Linked DNA regions of Homo sapiens. The protein of the gene in region 3 interacts with the protein of the main gene of each other region in a biochemical or structural test. Each region holds a gene or a part of one and is shown on either strand. Other genes may lie near its edges.

What was found. The genes of interacting proteins can lie anywhere in the genome.
Region 1: of the proteins of FAM20C (region 3) and STC2, one has a biochemical effect on the other in vitro, tested with the Homo sapiens proteins (one study listed by IntAct).
Region 2: of the proteins of FAM20C (region 3) and AMBN, one has a biochemical effect on the other in vitro, tested with the Homo sapiens proteins (one study listed by IntAct).

The regions. Positions count from the first base shown.
Region 1 is NC_000005.10:173,325,360-173,333,524, reverse strand, and holds the start of STC2 (stanniocalcin-2 precursor), read left to right. Parts: upstream 1-5,110; 5' UTR 5,111-5,331; coding exon 5,332-5,482; intron 5,483-7,514; coding exon 7,515-7,657; intron 7,658-8,165. UniProt on the Homo sapiens protein: Has an anti-hypocalcemic action on calcium and phosphate homeostasis.
Region 2 is NC_000004.12:70,587,626-70,595,310, forward strand, and holds the start of AMBN (ameloblastin precursor), read left to right. Parts: upstream 1-4,630; 5' UTR 4,631-4,733; coding exon 4,734-4,748; intron 4,749-5,701; coding exon 5,702-5,770; intron 5,771-7,685. UniProt on the Homo sapiens protein: Involved in the mineralization and structural organization of enamel.
Region 3 is NC_000007.14:187,592-195,675, forward strand, and holds the start of FAM20C (extracellular serine/threonine protein kinase FAM20C precursor), read left to right. Parts: upstream 1-4,979; 5' UTR 4,980-5,608; coding exon 5,609-6,213; intron 6,214-7,962; coding exon 7,963-8,084. UniProt on the Homo sapiens protein: Golgi serine/threonine protein kinase that phosphorylates secretory pathway proteins within Ser-x-Glu/pSer motifs and plays a key role in biomineralization of bones and teeth.

The DNA.
Region 1 (8,165 bases), on a different chromosome or scaffold from region 3:
CCAGCACCACAATGCCTGCCTCTGGGCCCAACCAGTACTCTCCATGGAAGCCAGGCAGCCCCTTGCCTGGGATACGTTCTCCTGGAGTTTGTCTCAAGATACAACAAGGAAGAAAAAATTATGACCCATGTAAAACAGAGAGGCCTTCTGGAATACCATTCAGGCTTCAGAGAAAGGCGTTAACAAAACTCAGACTACAGTCAGATGCCCAGTGTTTACTACTTTATATTCCTTCCAGTAAATGGGTTTATTGTGTTCCTACTCTCTTGGGGGTTTTTTTAATGCTTTTTTTTCTTTTGTATTTCCAGTCAATCCATGAATGGTTTGACTATTGATCTGTGACAGAGAGGAAATGCCCAATTCACAAAAGCGTTGTGTTCCCACACTTCCAAAGTTGGTTGTTTGGGGAACTCAGAATATATTTTCTTCCAAGAAACAATATTATACATGATAGGTTTACAGGCCAGCACCACAAAATCCTTCTTAACTCATTGTGTTGTTGGGCACTGCACTTTTATGGTATAAATTAGTAGAATATAATTTGGTTATAGTATTAAGAATAAACAAACCCAAATATTGAAGATATAATCTCCTTTATCCTGAATTATATTTAATGAAATAACCAGTTTAATGAAAAAAAGATAAGAGCAAAGATAGAGGCTTTTTTTTTTTTGAGACAGGGTCTTGCTCTGTCACCCAGGCTGGAGTACAGTGGTGCAATCATAGCTCACTGCAGCCTCAACCTCCTGGACTCAAGCCATTCTCCCAGAACCTCAGTCTCCCGAGTAGCTGCGATTACAAGCACATACCACCACGTCTGGCTAATGTTTGTATTTTCTGTAGAGACGGGGTCTTGCCATGTTGCCCAGGTTGGTCTCGAATTCCCGGGCTCAAGCGATCTACCTACCTCAGCCTCCCAAAGTGCTGGGAGATGGAGGCTTTTTAGGGAGAGACCTCTGCTTGCAAGATAATTTGGGAGGCCTGATAGCAGCAGTTTGTTATTTTTTTCTGTCCGGTTTCACCTTGATACCTTTTTTCATTTTCCTTCATACAGGTATGATGCACAGGAGCCAGGATTAGGGTAAATTTGAGACTCACAAAGGAAAACAGCAACGGATAGGGGAGCAAGAGGGAAAATAAGTGTGAAAGAGATCTCTTTGATGGGGGGATTAAGGCATGTTATTGCGAGGAGATTGGCTAAATCTGCATTAATTGATTTGCTAAGAAAAGGAAAGGAAACTGGGGAGAAGGCTGGAGACCCAATATCAGAACTTTCCAGGCAGGCAGAGTCGTGAGGACTGTGTAGCCAGACAGTTCCCTCTCTGACCATAAGGTGGTGCCATCAGCCCAGACAGTCGGCCCCAAGGGGGCGGGGCGTGCAGTGGGTGGAGCTCCCCACGTGTAAGCCATGTTCTCCACTCAGGTTCCGGAACTCAGAAAGCCTGGACCAGGCAGCACGTGTCAACTTGCACATCACTGACTCAGCACCCACGAACTATGCCCATCCGCTAAAGCCCCTTCGGCTCACACTCGAGCAAGAACACGTCTGTCTTGCTGGGCATCGAGACGCACGTGAAGATTCCAACTAATTCCTTCCCACTCCTCTGCTCTTTCTCCACAATGGCAGCTCTGGGCCCCTGAGCATTTCCTAATTCCTAAAGAGAACCTAGTCTAAAGCGCCCTACAGTCTCATCCTTAAATACCGTCAGATCTTCCGTGAGGAGCACAGATTTGTCACAAGGAGCCCAGCCTTCACAACATGCCCTGGCCGACTTCCCCAGTTTGATGTCCCACTTTCACACCTAACTGGGCAACCCCTATTCCTGATACAAATCCCACCGGATCCTCTCCATGCATTTAGCCCTGCTGGTCCTCCCACCTCCCATGCCCACTTTTTTCCTTGCCTCTACTTGTCACTATCCTCCCCCATCCTTCATGGTCTAACCCAAATATCCCCTCCCCCAAAACCTGCCACTCAGTGTTGACCGCATGTAACTAGCAAAGTGGATTTAGACAGGAAAACATGGGCTCCAGGCGTCAACCACAGAAGGCCCTGGATGACACAAGGTAGGTCATGTCTGCCTCTTCCTGGCTGTGTATGCGTTAAATTGAGGAGGAGGGCCCATCCAGACAGGTGCTGCTGAACCTCAGGACAGCAGCTGGTCCATCCAGGAGACCTCCCAGGCCTCAGTTCCCATCTAGGGAGGGCCCTAGGTCTGGAGGGACACCAAAGGCATGAGTGTGGTGTGTGGTGCGGTGTCATGTTAGCTATATAATAGTAATAATGATTATTATTACTGTCCCCTGCCCCACCCTCATCAGCCACAGTCTGCCAAACTTGGCCTCAGTTATAAAGCTAAAGGAATCAGCCAGAGAGAGGGGGAGTCAATCACAACAAAGTCACCAGTCTGAGCCCCCATCCCACTTCTACCCCTGCGGCCTAGACTGGCCATTTCAGCAAACTGCCTAGTGATTCTGCAAGGGAATTTTCACAGCCTTGGCGGGTCGGACTCAGATGGGCATTCTTATCTGGATGCTTTGGACTTGGCTAAGTGGCCCAGAGATAAACCCTTAAGAACTAGTGCCTGTGCTTACGCCACCTCCAATTCTAGCTACTATGTGTTCTTTTGGTTCTAAAGGGGCAGTTGGCTCAGGTGAAAACCAGGAATGTCCCTTGGAAGGCAGGAGCAAACAGCCTCAGGACGAACTTTGAAACTATGTAGGTCCTCTGAGGGCAGCCCCAGGGGCCCCATGGTAGCAAAAGGTAGGCCTAGCCAAAGGCTGGGCAAAGCAGGAGCAGGGAGAGCTCCATCCCCCTGGCCATCGCTCCAGGTATCCTGGGAGGCCTCTGCCCAGCACACTAAGTGTCTGCATCTGGCAAAAGAGGGCTTGCTCCTGCCCCATGGAGCTCTCTCCTATTTCTGCTTCTCAAAAAAAAACAGGTGACCAGATGCCTTCTTAATGTCAATATTGCTCATGTTCTCTCCTACAAAAGAGGCCACATAGAAAGAAAGTCTACCCAGCTGTACCCATAAGCAGGAGTGGGACCAAATGGCTACTTGTTCTCAGGAAATTCAGAGCCTTAAAGAGTTAGTTAGGAGAGGCCAGAATGCCGCTGTGTCGTTTGTTTGCTTTGTTTTTAAGGATCTACAGGAGGTAGTTTTCCATAAACTAGGAAGCTAAGTTAACTATGCAAACACAAGCAGGGTGGGCAATGTGAACTGGCCGTTTTAATGTATTTGTACCCGCACGTCCTTGCACAAAAGATCCAAGGCTGCGCGGAGTAATTGCTATTAGAATAGTGGGCATGGTCCCTACCGCCGCAGGTTCGGACCTTCAAAGTGACAATTTATGGATGCTCCCTGGCGCTCCAGCGCAGGGGAAGCCCACTCTGAAGACGCCCTCCCCACCCCCTCCTCTCCTTCCTTCCGACTCAGGAGAGCTCGACACGCCGGATAGCTGCGGCCAGCCGTGGCCATCCTGGCCCCCCGCCTCCGCCTTCCCCACTCCCGCGTGCAGCCGGGACACGGGAAAGGAAAGCTTTGGAAGTCAAGCGCCGGCCAAAAGATGACCTGCCCGCGTGTCTCCTCGCCCCCTCCCCCAGCCGTGTCACATGGCGGCCCCAACCAGGCGGGCAGTGCGCCCCGCCGCGGAGACCCAGGGCCGCGTCGCCTGGGCAGTGGGTGATGAAACTTCCCAGGCGCATTACCGCAGAGGGCGCGGGCGGGGCGCGGGGCGGGGGTGGGGGATCGAGAGCTGGTACCGGGGCTCACCTGTTCTCCAGGAGGAGGGTGGGGACGGGGGGAGGGGCGAGTGCGCGCCAACGCCGGGTGCGTGCCCTGGGGCGCTTGGGCGCGGCGCTCGTGTCCCCGCCCTCCCCCAGCCCTGCGAGCCCCCCGAGCTGCGCCGTGGGGTGACGGGACCGAGAGCAGTTCCTGTCCCCGGCCCCGGCGCGGGGGAGACGTGAGCGTGCACACGTACACACACAGCAGGGGAAGAGGCGCTCCAAGCGGCGCCCAACTTTCTCCTTCCCTCCACGGGCCGGGTGAGAAAGTAGCCGGGGGCTATCCCGACCCGGCGGTTCTTGGGGAGGGGGCCGAACAAGAAAAGGGAGGAGATGGAGATAACTTCCCCGGATTTAGCTTTTTTGTCTTTGTTTTTGTTCTCACCACTTCCATCGGATGACTGGAGAGTAAAAGGGAACCCGGAGCGGGGTGGCGAGCAGCGCTTTGAGAAAATGCAGGAGTGTGTTTGGAGACGCGTAAAGTTGCCTTTCAAGCTCTGGCCTCCGGGCACGCGATGCTCCGCGGCGGGCTGACTCAGGGCTGCCTTGGGCCTCCCTGCCACCCTCCTGGAAATGATGCAAGTCCTGACTGTCACCTGGATCCCTGCAGCCCAGCCTGGAATGCGTCTGGATTAGGGGAAAGACGAGAAACGACACTCCAGGTGTTGCACGGCCCACCAAAGCGGGAAGATAGGGCAGTTGCTCAGACCAAATACTGTATCTAGTGCTTCTGCTCCTATCTTCAATCGTGGGGTTCTTTTTAATGCAAAGTGTCACAAGGCCAGGAATTCCCATGTGTGCTCAGTTGGCCCACAGCATCATTGTGCCTAGGAAACTGCTTCAATTTATCAAGTCCTCTGGGCTGGGAATCTCACTGAATTCCAAACGGCGGAAAGAGGAAACTTTCCCAACCCGATGTGGGTGTGACGCGAGCCAGGGGCCCCAGGGACACTGTCCCAGAGCACACCGTCCCCCTTTAACAGCAACTGGAGCTTGGATTCGCTCTTATATTGTACAGTCCTTTCGACCATTGCCCTGGAGCACCCGCACACGCGCACGCATCTCCGGCCGCGCTCACACACACTCATACACACGCACGCAAACGCGTGGCCGCCGCCAGGTCGGCAACTTTGTCCGGCGCTCCCAGCGGCGCTCGGCTTCCTCCTGTAGTAGTTGAGCGCAGGCCCCGCCTCCCGGCCGTGTTGTCAAAAGGGCCGGGGTCTCGGATTGGTCCAGCCGCCGGGACAACACCTGCTCGACTCCTTCATTCAAGTGACACCAGAGCTTCCAGGGATATTTGAGGCACCATCCCTGCCATTGCCGGGCACTCGCGGCGCTGCTAACGGCCTGGTCACATGCTCTCCGGAGAGCTACGGGAGGGCGCTGGGTAACCTCTATCCGAGCCGCGGCCGCGAGGAGGAGGGAAAAGGCGAGCAAAAAGGAAGAGTGGGAGGAGGAGGGGAAGCGGCGAAGGAGGAAGAGGAGGAGGAGGAAGAGGGGAGCACAAAGGATCCAGGTCTCCCGACGGGAGGTTAATACCAAGAACCATGTGTGCCGAGCGGCTGGGCCAGTTCATGACCCTGGCTTTGGTGTTGGCCACCTTTGACCCGGCGCGGGGGACCGACGCCACCAACCCACCCGAGGGTCCCCAAGACAGGAGCTCCCAGCAGAAAGGCCGCCTGTCCCTGCAGAATACAGGTAAGTGCATGTGCCCCCGCAGCCGGGAGCTACTGGGAGAGGACACCGTGCACCCACGCGGCGCGCCCCAGGCGTTTCGCCGGGAGCCAGGCGCCCACCCAGGGCCACGCAAACTCTTGGGATGGCACGGGACGTGCAAAGGGAAGCGCGAGGCAAGGCGAGGTCCGCGCCGGGCTCCGAGGGCCCGGAATCTGCACGTGCTAGCAGGGTGATGAAATGGCTGGGGCAGGACTTGTTGCTGTCCTCCCCAGGGTCGAGGGGAAATGAAGCAGCGTCTGACGCTGCCAGCGCCAGCCCCCGCCCCCGAATCCCGGGTCCGGTGCAAAGCGCGCTTCATCCCGGCCGGCACGCGGGAGGCCCAGAGGGTCCCCGGAGCTGGGCTGCGCCCTGCGCCCGGAGAACTTCTCTTCCTGGCCTGCCGGCCTCAGTAAGGGTGCCGCGTCTTCCCCCTCCTCAAAAGATGCCCGACATCCCAGAACTTTGCCGGCGAGACAAATGGCATTGCGAACTTTCCCCCTGGGGGCACTGCTTTCGGAAGGGAGCGTGAGGGCAGCGCAAAGCGTACCTCCGCGGTGCTGCCGCCATCCCCAGCTCCTGGCCAGGTCAGCAAGCCAAGAAATGGTGACACGACCCGAACCGTGCGCCTCCTCTGCTCTACCGGCTCTTGGCTCACCGGCAAGCTGCAAAGCAGAGCCAGGCGTGCAGGGCACGGGGCTGGCCCTTTTCCCAGCTCGGAAAGAGAAAGAAAATCTGCCTACAGCTCCTTCGCTCCACGACCCCTCCCCCGACTTTGGGGGGCCGTGTGAACGCGGCAGCGGCGGCGTGCGTGCGCTCACCGCACGAGCTGGAATGCACGAGTGCCCATTAGGGACGCCCCAAGTGAGTGAATGGCGGCCCTGTGCGGTCCTGCCCCGGCGGCGCGTGGGGTCTTACGGATCCTGTCGCCTCCACATGCTGGGGCCGGCACCCCCACCACCCCGAGACCCTCGCCCACCCTCCCCCTCCTCTGGCGCTTCCTCTGAGAACTGAACCTGATTCTCGGTGGTCGGTGACCCTCAACAATACACGCCCCTCATTCTCTGGCTAGATTTAATCTGATGCGGGTTATCTGCTCCGACCCCGCCCTTCTTCCAAAATATACTTTTCTGATGTAATTTTGTGGTTGATTTAAATCAGAGACTTGGGTAGTGGAAAGGGAGGGAAGAGGCTTTGCACGCTGCAGCCTGACAGTTAACTCCCTCCGTCTGCCCCTTCCGAGAGAGGACTGGGGGCCACATTCGGTGAAGGGCTGCAAGCTTCCTCCCGGGCTGCGGGAATTCTAGGGGATTGGGTGATACCTCACCCGGATCCCTAATTAAAAGGAGCCTGCAACCTCTGATAGTGGCGTTTCTGAAGGCTCGCCCCCAGCTGACTCCACTCCTAAGCCTGCTCGCCAACCGCAGCTTCCCTAGCTGGTATTTTAATGCGAAGGGTTGGGAGGCACTGCCTTAATAGGAATTTTGTTTTGATTTTTAGGTGTTGAATCATAAAGCTGAATTGAAACTGCTTTTTAGATGCTGTCATTTGGGGGTCAGGAAGCAAATGGCTGTGATTTAATAGCAGCAACTTCTACAGATCAAGTAGAGAAGGGTACTTCATTGATGAAGTACAGTCTTCGACTCAAAATTTTATTTTTGTCTGTGGGTTTAAAAAGCGGAAATATATTTTGCTCTCAAACTAAGTATTCCCACAAATACTTTAATAAAATGGAAAGGATGAAAAGGAGGAATGCTCAGACCAGCCTTCTGGTTGTAATTTTTGTAATTTTTCGGCTCTTTTCTACAAATATTTACAAATAGAGATATTTTTCATGAGTAGATTAAAGGACGAAATTTTGTTTCCCAGGCTTTTTAGGTCCTGAAATAGTCATTACTAAGTCTTTTTTCCTCCTTAAATTTTCCTTTAGTTGTTAACTTTTATTTCAAATGACCTCTCTGCATTGCCCAGCATGGGTTAGAGTTTTGTATATATTTGTATGTGATTTTCCTTTTAGCGGAGATCCAGCACTGTTTGGTCAACGCTGGCGATGTGGGGTGTGGCGTGTTTGAATGTTTCGAGAACAACTCTTGTGAGATTCGGGGCTTACATGGGATTTGCATGACTTTTCTGCACAACGCTGGAAAATTTGATGCCCAGGTAAAAATCCATCCAGAGCATGAAGAATGTTTGGGGTGAGCATACATGATTGAAACGTTCATTGGAAAGCCTTGTTAACCAACTTCCTTTGCTGTTCCTTGTGGTGTGTTTTAGTGCTTGCAAGCGACAGTCTAGGTATAAAACATTATGCCAGTGTCTCCCTTCTGCACTCATAAGCTGTGTCTACACAGGCAGGGTGGACTGGAGACCAATGTCATAATAAACGATAAACACCTTGTAAGGGGACACGCTGTGTCTGGCCACCCAGAACTCAGTCTCCAAAGCCCACTGCATGAGAGGCAGGGGCAGGAACCCCCAATTATACATTTCAGAAGTCATTTCACCTACTAGGAAAATGAGACACAAAGTATGTAGAAATCCGTCATGTGGTGTGTGGGCAGCCAACCCGAATAACTCAGGACCTCCAAAAGAGCAGACTTCTATTCCTCCTGAGTAGCAGATCTTTCTCTCCCAAGCTGACCGGTCGAAACCCTGATTGAGTCCTTCA
Region 2 (7,685 bases), on a different chromosome or scaffold from region 3:
CATTATTTACAAAAGCCAAGATATGGAAATGACCCAAATGTCCACCAACAGATAAATGGATGAAGAAAATGGGAAATATACATACAATGGAATATTATTCAGCCTTAGAAAGAAGAAAGTCCTGCCATTTGTGACAACGTGGATGAACCCAGAAGACATTATGCCAGGTGAAATAAGCCAGTCACAAAAGGACAGACACTGCATGATTCCACTTACATGAGGTATCTAAAATAGCCAGACTCACAGAAGCAAAGAATAGTGGTTGCCAGAGGCTGGGGGGAGGGAGAAATGGAGAATTGTTCTTCAATGAGTATAAAATTTCTGTTATGCAAGATGAATAAGTTCTAGAGATCTGCTGTACAATATGCCCATAGTTAACAATACTATATTGTGCACTTAAAAATCTGTTAAGAGGACAGATTTCTTGTTCAATGTTCTTACTACTTAATAAAAAAGCACACATACAAAAGAACACAAGGAAATTTTTGGAGGTAATGCATATGTTTATTACCTTAGTTGTAATGCTGATATCAAGGGTATATGCGTATGTCTAAACTCATCAAGATGTATACATTAAATATGTGCAATTATTGTATATCAATTATACCTCAATAAAGCTGAGAAAGTATTTTAATATGAAGCAGATTTTTAGCCTTCATATTTCATTTCCACAAGAATGATAATAACTCATGATCACTGAACATTTCTTGGCTACCAGCTAGTGTGCTAAGCACCTTATATTTCGTATTTAAATTAAATTAATGCTGACCTACGGTAGACCACATTTCACAGATAAAAATGTTATATGAGCTTGGGCACAGTGGCTCATGCCTGTAATCCCAGCACATTGGGAGGCCGAGGTGGGTGGATCACCTGAGGTCAGCAGTTCGTGACCAGCCAGGCCAACATGGTGAAACCTCGTCTCTACTAAAAATACAAAAAATTAGCTGGGCATGGTGGTGGATGCCTGTAATCTCAGCTACTCGACAGCCTGAGACAGAAGACTCACTTGAACCCAGGAGGTGAAGGTTGCAGTGAGCCAAGACTCTGTCTCTCTCTCTCTCTCTCTCTCTCTCTCTCTCTATATATATATATATAATGTGTATATATATAAAACATATGTATATATACACACATATATACATATAGAAAACATACTATATATACACATATATAAAATATATACACATACATATATACATATATAACATATATGTATATATGTTATGTATGTATGTATATGTTATATATGTATATATGTTATATATGTATGTATATATACACATATATAAAATATGTGTATATATAATATATAAAATATACTATATATACATGTATATATAAAATATATATACATTTATACATATATACATATATAACATATATACATATATAAAATGTATATATACATATATATGCATATATACATACATATATACATATATATAAAATATATGTGTATGTGTATATATATATAAAATATATGTATTTATATAAAGTGAAAACATGGAGGCCAGGTGCAGTGGCTCATGCCTGTAATCCCAACACTTTGGGAGGCCAAGGTGGGCAGATCGCTTGAGGCTAGGAGTTACAGACCAGCCTGCCCAACATGGTGAAACCCTGTCTCTACTAAAAATACAAAAATTATCTGGGTATGGCGGCGCGTGCCCTTAGTCCCAGCTACTCAGGAGGCTGAGGCATGAGAATTGCAGGAACCTGGGAAGCGGAGGTTGCAGTGAGCCAAGATCGTGCCACTGCATTCCAGCCTGGATGACAGAGTGAGACTCCGTCTCAAAAAACTTTAAAAAAAAAAACTACATGAAGATTATATAGTGGCTCATTCAATGTCATATGACCAGTGAGTATTACAGAGGGGATTTAAACAGCTGTGCTCTCAACCACTTTACTAACATATTCTGCCAGATCTTGTTGCTCTAAATTTTTCATTGTAACTTTTTCTATGGCCTATGTCTCTTCATGTGTCTCACATCTTTTGTCACTTTGAGATTTTTTTTTATTTTGCTGTACTCCAGACACAAGTATTTTCTTATAACTGACTCTCTGATTCTTCTTCATACAGGTATGGTCTTGGCCAACATAACATGGTTTCCATCAGCTATGGTAATTTCCTTATATCTATAATCACTGTCAGAAACTCATTCATACATTCATACTAATTTCCAGATTTCATTGTAATAGAAAATTTTTTGTAGGATATATTAGTATTACATTTACCAACTTTCCCAGTAACATACATCCCATAAAATCTGACAAAAAACTGTTTATTAGCTGAAAAAATGAAACCAACTCCAATTGATTACAATCATTATTACAATATGAATACACACTGTCTCATGCAAAGTGGGAAACAAGATTGGAAAGAGGAACTGAAATGTTCAATTGACTGTCTAGTTACAGAGGGTGAACTTTATGACAGCCTTAGAGATCCTTACATAGTTTTTGAGTGGGGCAGTGAAATGCCAAAACCAGTATTTTAGGAAGATAAGTCTAGTGTTGGTGTGCAGGATATTGGAGGAGAAATAAACTACCAGATAAACATCTGGAAGTCAGTAAGCCAGAATGGAGTGTGACATTTAAAAAAGGAAGAAGCAACAGTGTGTATGATATATTGGATATTTGGCTCAAAAGCAAAGCAGAACATAAGAATCCTACCAAAACATCATTATTAGTGTGTCATGATCACGCTTATAAACTTTACAAGACACACACATACACACTATTTGCCAGTTTTTTAGCCAACTAGGAAGCTCGTTCCTATGGATTCAGCATCAACTTCCACAGAGAAAATGTCCTCCATCAGGTCCCTCCTCTACCTCCTTGGAGCTTATGAACCTAGCTGCCAGCACTCCTCCTCCTCCAGCACACACACACACACACACACACACACACACACACACACAGTTCTTGTGGTCTCATATTTCATGTAGTTTCTCCTACCAAAAGGACAATCAACTCATTCATTCAGCACCCAATAAATGGCAGCTGCTGCATCTTCACCATCTCACCAATCTTTAAGACAAGCTCAGGCTGGGCGTGGTGGCTCACGCCTGTAATCCCAGCACTTTGGGATGCCAACACAGGAGGATCACCTGAGGTCGGTAGTTTCAGACCAACCTGGCCAACATGGGGAAACCCTGTCTCTACTAAAAATACAAAAAAAGTTAGCCGGGCATGGTGGCGCAGGCCTGTAATCGTAGCTGCTCAGGAGGCTGAGGCAGTAGAGTCGCCTGAACCCAGGAGGCGGAGGTTGTAGTGAGCTGAGATCACACCACTGCACTCCAGCCTGGGCAACACAGCGAGACTCCGTCTCAAAAAAAAAAAAGACTAGCTTGTGGTCATTAATTATTATCCTTACATAACAGAAGAAGGAACTGGGGCTCAAAAGAGATTAAGGGACTGCATCAAGCACCAGAGACAGCATGAAAAATAATACTTTTCATTTCAATAACATTTTGCTGTTTGCAAAACACATTCACATTCTTCATTTCTTTGCATCCTAAAGATAATTCTGGTATCAGTGGAACACAGAGGTTTTCAGGAGCAGCTTCTAAGATAACATTATTTGAAGCTGTTAGGCCTACATTTGGGTATGGATACAGCTTTCTCTCAAAATACCAGCTTCCTCAATGTTCCCTGTAATTGACAAGATCCCTACTTCCCTAAAGAGTGTACTGACTCATCCCTTCTTCAGAACTAATCTTAAATGCTTATCCCTACCATATCTGAAATCACAACTTTGGAAAGACAAGGATGGGCAGAGAAGTAACAAAAGCAGCTAATATTCAATCCACATCCAAGATATTATCTGTTCACGGAGAAAAACCAATCTGTGTTGACGTTAACCTTTTAAGTGATCGAAATATGTCTTATTAACCTGGCTTGATACTAATGCCTGGGAATGTGTCTATCTGAAGAGTGAACTGACACTTGTGCCCATTGATTTGGTTCATAGAGAATGTTCTGATTTACGTCCCCGTCCCCACAGATTTTTTTTAAAATGCACCAAACGTTTACCTGAAGTAAACCTGATTCTTGCAAAGGGTCCAACTGTAGTTTCTTACAAAAGCTTGGCTATCTCTAATCAATTATCTCCAGATATGAAAATATCTAGGAAATTCAAGGAAGAAATCACACACATTAATTTTCCATCTAACATTTTAGTGTTTTCTTTTAAACTCTGTGTGTGCTGGGGGGAAGGACAGTAGTCTCTTTTACTACAACAAACAGGAGGGTGAAAACCTGAAGAATGCTAGCATTGGGTCACTAGCTTTATCTGCAGATAAAACCTGCACAAAACAGGTTTTGTTTTGCACCTATTTTACATATATTTTCCCCAGCTCACCAAAATAATTGTCTTCAGAGCCTATGTCCATTATTCCTTTACTGCCTTCCCTGCTATCAAGTTCTCTGAATAAGTACAGGGGCTGCAGTACAATTAAAAATAATGAGACCCTACTGGGCCAATGTCCCTGCACGCAATAAAAGGGTGTGGACTAATTGCAGGAGCAGAGATTCCCGCCCCAACTCCCCCCCGCCACCCCTCGCCATTTTGCTTCACTTTGATTGGTGGATTGGCACTTTAAATAAAGGTTTCTAATCTTCCCTGAATGAGAAGTACAGAGCAAGTCCCACGCACAGTCCTGAAAAAAATTTTAATCTTCTTTTCTTAGAACTATCTTGGTTGGCATCATCAGGCCCTGAGAGCACAGTGCATGTCAGCATCTAAGGTAAAATGGGATTTTATGATTTCCATGTGTTTCCTGTAAATTCTTTTTTTCCTATCTCCTGACAGCTTTTATAAAGAGGATTTATCTTCATTTGTCACCAGTAGCTGAATTATTGCTTGTTGTAATCCATTAGCATGTCCCAGAGATGACATGCCTAACACCCATTCAACTAAGAAAAAAAAAAAGACTTTTATTTATAGATTGTGTTTTTTTTAATGTTTTTGATTATAGTGCCTAATTCTTTTTAATATTAGAAGATGAGTAAATTTCTAGGCTATTCAGATCTCTATTCATGTAAGAATAAAGAGCTTTTTGAATTTATAGAATAAATTTTAAAAGATAATTCATTTTAGGAAGAGGAAAGCTAAATTTGAGACATATTTTCCACTAACATCAAAGAAAATTAAGATAGCCAATTTACTCTCATTTGAAAAGAAAAATTTTGTCATGGTTACGTAGATTACCTAAACATGCAATGATGTACCCTCTATTCCTGCAAATAAAGGTTTGTTATAAAATGACTTAGTTGCATTACATTTCACATGCATTTCAAAATGTGTCCCAAAGGGTAAGCAAAGTATAAACTTCTGTGAATAATACCTTATAGACCAATATTTTACTTAGTGGGAAGGATTTTTAAACTCATAATTCACTTTATGAAATGAAATATATCACAAAGAATATCGATGGAGGTTGTTCCTACATACTTATTTAGGCTGTAGATCCATTTAAAACGTGCTTAGATATTTTTTAATTGCTTGTTAATTTATTTCAGAAACTACTACATACAAATCGGTTGTTTAGTAACATTTAGTTTTTGTTTTTGTTCTTCTAACCTTTATCCCGGTGGTTTTTGTAAGAGCAGAGACTCAGGCTCATTTTCAAAAATTGTCTTTTAACCATTCTGAATAAAAATTCATCTGATTTAATTCTCCAACTTAATTATGTTTTAGATTCCACTTTTCAAAATGAAGGACCTGATACTGATCCTATGCCTCCTGGAAATGAGTTTTGCAGTGCCGGTAAGTCAGTCTTTAGAGTGTGTCCCAGAAAAGGTTATTGATTGTCGAACTCCAAACAACACTGAAGGGATATGGACTGAGAGTCCACGCATAGACTCACTTGATTTAATCCAGTGGTTTAGTCCTATTGAGTCAAAAGCCATAGTTGCTCAGATGTCAGTCTTGCAATCCAAAAGCGGTAAGTGATAGCCGGGTGCGGTGGCTCACGCCTGTAATCCCAGCACTTTGGGAGGTTGAGGCAGGAGGATGACCTGAGGTGAGGAGCTTGAGACCAGCCTAGCCAACATGGCTAAACCCTGTCTCTACTAAAAATACAAAAATTAGCCAGGCGTGGTGGTGGGCACCTGTAATCCCAGCTACTTGGGAGGCTGAGGCAGGAGAATTGCTTGAACCTGGGAGGCGGAGGTTGCAGTAAGCCAAGATTGTGCCACTACACTCCAGCCTGGGTGACGGAGTGAGACTCCATTTAAAAAAAAAAAAAAAAAGCAGTAAGTGAAGTATGATATTTCTACTAAAAAGTTATTTAAAATAGTCCCAAGACAATTTCTAGATCTTATTCCACTCATTCAAAGTTAAAAGCTTAGATAGTCTCCACAATGCATGGCGAAATTTTATTATCAACTTATTGCTATCATTATAAAGTTGAAATGGAAAGAGGAAATTTCTTTGAAAAAAATACATTTTCTTCATTTCAAAAAGAACTATCTCTAAATTTCTATGGTTACAAAACTCAGCTAGATAATTCCATTTAAAGCTAGTAATTAACTAGCAAATTTACCTTGTAAACATGAAATTGTGTGACTGAGAGCTGAAGTTTCATAAATCAAAACATATCATAGTGATGGGGCTAATTGTGTATTACAGTCCCACACCTGATCCATTCTAGTATATATTGAAATGATCTCATACAAACACAATCTTTTGAACACTGAACTACTCCAGCCAACAGCATGCAATTCTGTTATCACAAAAACTTTATTTGGCTGCTATATGCATTTAGCAAATATGTTGAGCAGCTGCCATGCATCCAGTAAATAAGACATGGAAAAATGAAAGTAAATAAGACATGATCTCTTGTCTCCAGTAGCTCACAGTTGGCCTCAAATGAACTTTAGAGTATTTTAATTCCTTGAAAGAAAAGGTTAGCTACTTGGTCTTCTTAAAGTGTTTTAGAGAAAGAGAATGGAAATGGAGAAAGAGGTTGAAAACTGATTATAATGATGAAAACCTTAATTCCACAAATAAAAATAGTCTCTGTTCCATCACGCAAGATGAATTTTAAATGAAAGAAAAATTGAGGGTGCCACCCTAGCTTACCTTTATATGATACTGACGTTGGGATGAGCCTCAGTCATTCACTATCAGTCTAACACATTGGCATTCTTTGAACCTATAATGATCCACACCTGAATCAATTGGGTCCACTCTGAGGAACAGAACAATTGCTTATTATTGCCAACTCATTGCCTGTCAAATCAGATGTTCTTCTCCTATTAATTCTGCATGGGAAATGTATCCCCTATCTGTATACATTCGTGTAAATATTCTTTAAGTCATGACTTAGAGCAGATGGAAAGCAAAGTACACTTTGTTCTGTGGCTCAATCCAGGATGTGTTATTTATGCACTGGCAAATAGTGGGGAAGAAGGTCCTGCTCTCACGATTCCCCCAAATTCTCAACAAGCTAACCACCACATACACACATACATGCACAATCACTCTTCCTGTCTACACAGCTAACCTCTTTCCTACCCAGAGTATTTGCTACACATTTGTAATGCCTTTCCCTCTATTCTTTTTTTTTTTTTTTTTTTTACAGTCTGGCTCTGTTGCCCGGGCTGGAGTGCAATGCTGAGATCTCAGCTCACTGCCACCTCCTCCTTCTGGGTTCAAGCGATTCTCCTGCCTCAGCCTC
Region 3 (8,084 bases):
AGACTCTGTCTCTGCCTCCTGTGCGGGGTCATGCTCTGCCTGGAAAGCGCCTCCTTCCTTCCTGGCCCATTGGGAAATCGCAGTGTCCTCTGGCCGGTCCCAGCACCCCCGGGTGGGACCCCAGCGACCCTGCACCCCCCCACTGCAGCCGTCTCCCTCCTCCTGGCAGGGCAGCTGCCAAGCCTTGCCCAGTCCAGGTCTCCCCAGGCAGGATCCCTTGGGGGAAACCTGAGGAGGCAGCTGTTCCCCCACTCCCAGAGTGTCCTCAGAGAACCCCTTCCAGACCCCAAGCTCCAGAGCTCGGCCTCAGGTTCCCTTGCTCGGGTCTGGGAACTGGAAGTCGGTCCCGCTCCCCTCCCTGGCCTCTGCCCCATTTTTCTGTCCGCTTCCACGTAGAGCAGACCAGAATATGCCACCCCAAAATATGCCTCTTTGGCATAAGCATTATTTTGAGCTGCTTATTTTGAGAAACTGCAACCACAGGAGAAATTCTGAAAACAAGAGTGGAAGCTGCTGTTCTATGAGAGAAAGTCACATCCGTACAGGCATCTGCGCTCACCAGGGTGCCCCCTCTCTGGGCCAGAAGGCCGCCTGTAAGTCACCGGAGACGCTCATCCATGGAGAAGGCCTGACCCCAGTTTGGGGTAATTTCTTGGGCCCCTCCCCACACACTCTTTCTCTTTGTTTCCGTCGAACATGGTCTTTAAGGCTGAGCTCCAAGCCACGCCTTTGCGACATAGCCTGTCCCGAGTCCGTCCCTTGCAGACCAAGGTATACATGCTATTAAGCTTCTGTTTTTCTCTTGTTATCTGTCTTTTCCACCTTGCAGCACGAAGCTTCCCCCAGGAATCCTCCACGCCCTCACCTGCACCAAGACTTTCAATTAAGAGCAGCAGTGCCCTCCTGGTGTCTGGTGGTGCCAGGGGGCAGGCCTGGTCCTCAGGCCTGGGGTCTTCTGTCCCCCCTTATCCTGGGGAGCCCATCTGTCCCCCTCATTCCTGGGAAGCCCGTCTGCCCCCCTCATTCCTGGGGAGCCCGTCTGCCCCCCTCATTCCTGGGGAGCCTGTCTGCCCCCCCCATTCCTGGGGGACCCATCTGTCCCCCCTCATTCCTGGGGATCCCATCTGTCCCCCTCATTCCTGGGGAGCCCGTCTGCCCCCCTCATTCCTGGGGAGCCCGTCTGCCCCCCTCATTCCTGGGGGGCCCGTCTGTCCCAGGGCTTTGCATACTGAGGCCTCGCAATCCACAAGCTTTCCTAATTCCCAGCTCATCCACATGACAACAGCCCTTCCCCGGGGGCTCTGGCCGACCTCCCTTCGTCCTCACCACACAGCTGCTCTCCCTGCCCCGCCCTTAGCCCTCCTTAGACCCATCCACCCGGCCCCTAGGTGAGCCTCTCCCGACCCAAGACCCAGCGTCGTCCCTCTGTCCCCAGCCTTCCCACGGCCCCCTCACTCAGGACGCAGCCCACAGCCTGGCCCCACCTGCAGACCTTACAGAGGCCACTTGGCCCCTCACACAATGCCCACCTCACAGGCCTTCTCTCCCCGCAGAGGGTCAGACATGCCCCTGCCCCAGCCTTGGCATTTCCACCCCGCAGGCCTCCACGGGGCTGAGCCCTCAGGTACCAGCTTCTGTGCAAAGCCATGCCTGGAGGCCTTCCTGGGCCACGTGGTCTAAGACAGCAATCCCCTCACACCCAGAGCAGGCAGCCCTCCCTGCCCGGGCCGTCTTATTTTCCTATGTCATTCCTGTCACCACCTGGCGCTCACCTTGGCTAACTGGAGCTCCAGCCCCTTTGGACGAAAAGAGCTCCCAGAGCCACTCCCTGGTCTCTGATGGGGCTGTGTGTCCTCTCCAGGTGCCCTCCCCGACAGCCAGCCCCTCCGCCTCTGCACAAGGGAGGGCCCAGGGAGGCTCAGGGCCTGTGTGGCTGTGTGTGTGTCTCTATGTGTCTGTGTGTCTGTGTGTTTCTGTGTATCTATGTGTGTATGTGAATGTGTATCTGTCCATGTATCTGTGTATATCTGTGTCTGTGTGTGTGTGTATGTCTGTGTCTGTGTGTATATCTGCGTCTGTATGTATATATGCGTGTCTGTGTGTATACGTGTCTGTGTACCTGTGTCTTCGTATGTCTATGTGTGTATTGGTGTGTGTCTGTGTGTGTCCATGTGTGATGACATGTGTATCTGTGTCTATGTGTGCATCTATGTATATCTGTGTGTATGTCTTTGTGTATCTATAGATCTGTGTCTATGTGTATATTATCTCTGTGTTCATCTGAGTATTGTATGTCCATGTGTGTCTACATGTGCCTGTGTCTGTATCTGTGTCTGTCTATGTGTCTATGTGTGTATCTGTGTGTCCGTGTGTGTGTGTCCATATATCTGTCTATGCATGTATCATCTGTGTGTCTGTGTATTGTGTATCCATGCATATATCCGTAACTATGGGTATGTCTGTGTGTGTTTGTGTCCACGTGTGTGTATCTGTGTGTGTCTATATATCTGTGTCTATGTGTGTGTCTGTGTCCACGTGTGTGTATCTGTGTGTGTCTATATATCCGTGTCTGTGTGTATCTGTGTGTATCTATGTGTGCATCTGTGTGTGTCTGTTTTCTCTTTGTTTTTATGGTGTCCACGGATGGGCCGACTGAACCACCAAATTCCTCCTCAGAGCCCAGTAAAGGCACCAGGCGGAAGGGTCTGGCGGAGGGTTGGCCGCTGTCTCCTCACTCCTCAGCGGGGTCCTGTCTTCCGACTTTTGTCTCGCGCCGCCGCAGCCTGTGGACTCCTGGGCCCTCCTCTGAGAGCCTGCGCTGTGCCTGGCCCCGGGCGGAACTTTGAACGAGGCTCCTGTCTTAACTCGACTGCTTGTGCTTGGGGGAGATAAACAATAAACAGGAGCAGAAGAAAGTGTCCTCAGACCACGGCGGGTGCTGTTGGGAAAACAGTGGCGGGGCAGGGAGGGGGGCGCTTCTGAAGGACCTGGCGAGGTAGAGGCCACTGTTCTAAGAGGCAACAGACGAGATGAACCAGGACCCTCTGCGAGGGAGGGAGGCGTCCAGGGGTGCACACGGGTCCAGATAGCTGCCGGGCTCCCAAAAACCACTCTGGGGGTGAGGATGGGAGGGGAGAGGAGTTGGGGGCAGGAGGCAAGTGAAAGTAAGTGCCCAGGGAACCTCCATGAGGCCCCCCACACCGGATAATAGTGTTCCATGGGGTCTGCTCAGCCCCATGTCTGCCCCAAGACACTAGCCACAGCTCTGCGTCGAGGTCCTGTAGACCACGGGAGAGATGGGGGGGCCAGGAGCCTATAGAACTCCAAGTCCAAGGGGACCCTTGCTGGGAGAACACAGGCCAAGACCTTCCTTCCTGCCACAGGCTTCTGTCCCTGCTGTCTGCTCCCCCAGGACTCCCCCCACACCCGGGATCTTCCTCCTCACCCTCCTTGGCCTCTCTCAGTGACCCTGTCTACACACAGATGTGCTGTCCATGTGAGTGGAAGGAAGGAAGGATGAGGTCCACTCACAGGGGTGAAGCTGTCTCCTGAGGGGGCAGCCCACCTCCAGGTCACACCGCCCCACCCAACACAGCCTCCAGTCCAGCTCCAGGTGGGCCGCACCCAGCCCTTCACTCACTTCAAATGGCCCAAGACGCATGGATTCCACTGGCCAGCCGGACTGGAACAACTTCTCCCCTTATAAGTATCTAGTGGGTGCCCACGGAATGCCAGGCAATGGGCCAGGCTCAGAGATGAGTGATTCCTCAGGAACAATGGGCTCAACGCCCTTAATTCACATCAGAGGAAACTGAGGCTCAGAGAGGGCGGAGAGGGCCCTGGTAACACAGCCAGCCGGTGAAAGTAAGAGGGGGGGCCCAGGCCCTGCTCCCGGCCCACCCGCCTGGGCTTGCTGGCGAGGCTGCTGGCCCAGGCAGTCTGGGCACTGTGGAAGCAGCCGGCTTGAGGCACAGGGGATGTGGCCTCCTCCCACACACTTACCTCCCTGACTACATCTTAGGCTGACATCCAGATTAACTCATATTCCCTACAGGGAGCTGCACGGCCAGAAGCTGCTGGTTGCAGAAGCCACCAGCTGGTTGTACAAGCACCGCTCCCCTGGTTGTGGGTGACAGATGAGATGCACTCACGTGAACACACATGCATGTGCACACACACATGCACACAGACGCACACACAAACACACACAGGCATACACACGCACACGCACATCCACACACACACATGCGCACACACACGCACACGCCTGCACTCACACACCCCCGTCGGCCCCAAGCAGGAAGGCGCCCCCGGCACACCAGCCCCTCTCAGCGCCCCCAGCGGGCCCGGCGCCTGGAGGGTTAAGGCGGGCGCGTCCCGCGGGTGGGCGGGGGGGGGGGGACGGGACCGGTGCCGGGAGCTCCGCTGCCCTGGCGTCCCCTGGGTCCAGGCCCAGTCGCTCCTTGGGCCTCTCTCGCGGGGCCGCCTCCGCCTCCTCCTTGCCGAGACGGGCGTGGGGCACGGGGTCGCCGCCCGGCGGGGAGCTCATCCGGCGGCGCAGACGCCCCGCGGCTCCGGGGAGGGACTTGGCCTGGGCCCCGGCCCCGCGCTCCTCTGGGGAGGAGCCGAGAGGCTGCAGCTGGCGGCGGCGGCCCCGGGCGGGAGGGGGTCCCAGGAAGCGGCCAGGCCGGAGCCCCCCACTCGGCCGCAGCTGCTGGCCTGGCCAGAACCGAGCGCGCCCTCCCGGTCTCCGCCGCTTCCCTCTGCAAACCGCGGGCAGGAGGAGCCCTCTCCTTAGCGGGCCCGGAGCTCAGAGGCGTCGCGGGGCGCGGCCGAGGGGAGGAGGAAGGAGAGCGGGAGCGCAGCCGGCCCGGGCCCAGCCGTGACTCGTGGGGCGGCGGCTCCGCCAATCTGTGGGCGCTGACGCGGGGGGCGGCTCCGCGGCGCTCGATATCTGCCCGCCCGGGACGCGGGGCGCCGAGAGGCTCGGCCAGGCGGGAGCTGCGCTCGGGGCGGCCGCTGCACCTGCCCGGGACCCCGCCGGCCGCTCCCCGCGCCCACCCCTTCCGCCCTTCGCCCCCCCCTTCCCCCCAGCCCCGGTCTCCCGGGCGCGGCGTGAGAGCAGAGCCCGGCCCGGAGGAGCCGCCCCTTCCCCGCCCGCCCGCCCGGCGCCTGGAGAGGAGCGCGCTGAGGATCGGGACGCCTGCGGCCGCCGCCACCGCCCAGGCCCGTCGCGCCCCGGCCGGGATGGACCCACACGCCCGATGAGCCCCGCGCCGGCGGCTGCGAGCGCCGAGCCTCCCCCTGCTGCGGCCCCAGCCGCCCCCCGCGCGCCCGGCTCCGCGGACCAGGACCCCTGGGCTCCCCGGCTGAGGGCGCGGCCGCTCCGGAGAGGCCGAGCGGGGACGGGCCCGAGATGGCGCGGGGACCCAGCGCTCCGGCGGCGGGCGCCCTGCACGCGGCCCGGGCCCGGGGACAGCCCCGGAGCTGGTAGCCGCCCGGCACCGATGGACCTTGACCCGCGAGGCGGCGCCGCGCTCGTGCCCAGCTGCAGCTAGAGGGGCGCGCGGGCAGAACGCGCTCCAGGCCCGGGCCGGCCCGCGCGGCCATGAAGATGATGCTGGTGCGCCGGTTCCGCGTGCTCATCCTGATGGTGTTCCTGGTGGCCTGCGCGCTGCACATCGCCCTGGACCTGCTGCCCAGGCTGGAGCGACGCGGCGCGCGGCCCTCGGGGGAGCCCGGCTGTTCGTGCGCGCAGCCCGCCGCCGAGGTGGCCGCGCCCGGCTGGGCCCAGGTTCGGGGCCGCCCCGGGGAGCCCCCGGCCGCCTCCTCCGCCGCCGGCGACGCGGGCTGGCCCAACAAGCACACGCTCCGCATCCTGCAGGACTTCAGCTCCGACCCCTCCTCCAACCTCTCGTCCCACTCGCTGGAGAAACTGCCGCCCGCGGCCGAGCCGGCCGAGCGCGCCTTGCGGGGGCGGGATCCCGGCGCCCTAAGACCCCACGACCCCGCGCACCGGCCGCTGCTGCGAGACCCCGGCCCGCGTCGGTCCGAGTCGCCCCCCGGCCCCGGCGGAGACGCCTCCCTCCTGGCCAGGCTGTTCGAGCACCCGCTTTACCGGGTGGCGGTTCCGCCGCTCACGGAGGAGGACGTCCTGTTCAATGTGAACAGCGACACCAGGCTCAGCCCCAAAGCGGCGGAGAACCCGGACTGGTGAGTGGGGGCTGGCAGGTGCCCACCCCCAAGGGAGCCGTGAGCCCAAGGCATGGTGTAGAGAGGTTCAGGGGCCCCAGAGGGCCGCCCCCCATGGAAGAGGCCGGGCAGGGAGTGTGGTGCGGGAGGAGGCAGCCGCCTACCTCAGGGCGCTGCCTTTGTCTCCAGAATAACCTCCTCCTTGGGAGGGGCTGCCGGCTGGTCCGGGAGCTGTGCCCTGTGGCTGCTGGTGAGGAAGCCAGACCCCGCGCCCTTTAGAAGCGAGTCCTGACCAGCCGTGGTCACCAGCTTGGGAAATGGGGTCAGGCAATGAATGAATGAGTTGGTGAGGGAAGGAGCCAGGCTGCCGCTGGGCTTTCAGACACTTGGCGAGGGTGCTCTGGGTGGGCACCTTGGAGAAGGTCTGGATGTGCCTATTGAGTCTTTTAAACCCAGTGGCTGGAGCAGAATTATCAGAGGGGCTTGCTGGCAGCCGTGAGGTGCAACAAGGCGGCCCAGCCAGCAAGGGCGGTGGGTGTGCTGGCTGCAAAGAGATGATGGCTCGATAAAGGGCGAGAAGCCACGGCAGGAACCTCTCTTTAAACTGTCCTGGCTAAGCCCTTTCCCCACCCCCCGGCCCCTCCCTCCGCCACACAGATCAAAACAAGCAGATGCTACACCGAAGCAGTGGAACATTAACCACGACAAGGCCAGAATAAGTAACTACCTGCCGAAGGTTACCCCAGCAGCAGAGGGGGAGACCAGCCTTCCAAAAGATCTGGTTGAAAGTCCCTTCTTCCCTGAAATGTCCAGGCCCAGTGTCTTCTGTCTAAACACACTGGCTGTTTGGAAGCCTCTGAGCCTTGCCTGCTGGTCAGGTTCAAGGAAATGCTTGGAAATTTGAGAACCAGAGCATTGGCCTGGGCTGTGGCTCTCGGCAGGGAGAGACGGCCGCCCAGAGCAGCGAGTGGCCAGGAAGTGTATCCTAGCCCCCCACCCCGCCCCCGTGTCCACCGCAGGACAGAGCTTCGGCAGAAAGCACCTCAGCTTTAGGTGAATTCGAGCTAGGACAAGTTCCGCGTTTCCCTCCAGCCCAGCAGGCAGACGGAGGGTCTGTCCCTCCTCCAGAACGGTCCCTTGACCCCAGAGATGTGAGGACAGGCTGCGTGGGCGGCGGGTCCTCCATGGGAGCCTGGGCTGGAGAGAGTGCTGCCTCCTTCCTCTCTCCCCACCCAAGGCTGCTCTCATTAAAATCAAATTTAGCCTCTTGCATCATTGTGCCCCTGGTTGTTGGAACAAAAGCAGAGAGCTGGGGAAGGTTCCTGACAGACTGGGCGTGTCTGTGAGTTTCATGCAGCCTGTGGTCAATGGTAGGTTCTCCCCTCTACTCCAGGGGAGGGCCACAGCCCCTCGCACCCTCAGCTGAGGTCATGGTTGGGCCATTTCGGTGACCCTGGGACAGACGTGGCGGGGATGGCAGGGCAGCGCTGACGTCCTGGAATTAGTTTTGCTGTAGTTAGAGCTGTCTGTGGTGTCTCCAGAGGGTGAGTAAGAATTACAGGCCTTTCACCGTGTTATTAGTTGGCAGCCGAGCGGCCACAGAAGAAAGCGCAGACGTTGCAGGGCCCTCTTTAAGCAGAGGCGCCTTCAACACATCTGCACTTGCTTGAACCCAAAGTTAAAAACACTGGCGTCGGTGCCCTCTCCCCGTCATCCGACTCACGGGCCTGTTCTTTCCATGCTGATGTTCGTCCTCGCTGCTCCCTGCAGGCCGCATGCGGGTGCTGAAGGTGCAGAATTCCTCTCCCCCGGGGAGGCGGCCGTGGACTCCTATCCCAACTGGCTCAAGTTCCACATTGGTATCAACCGGTACGAGCTGTACTCCAGACACA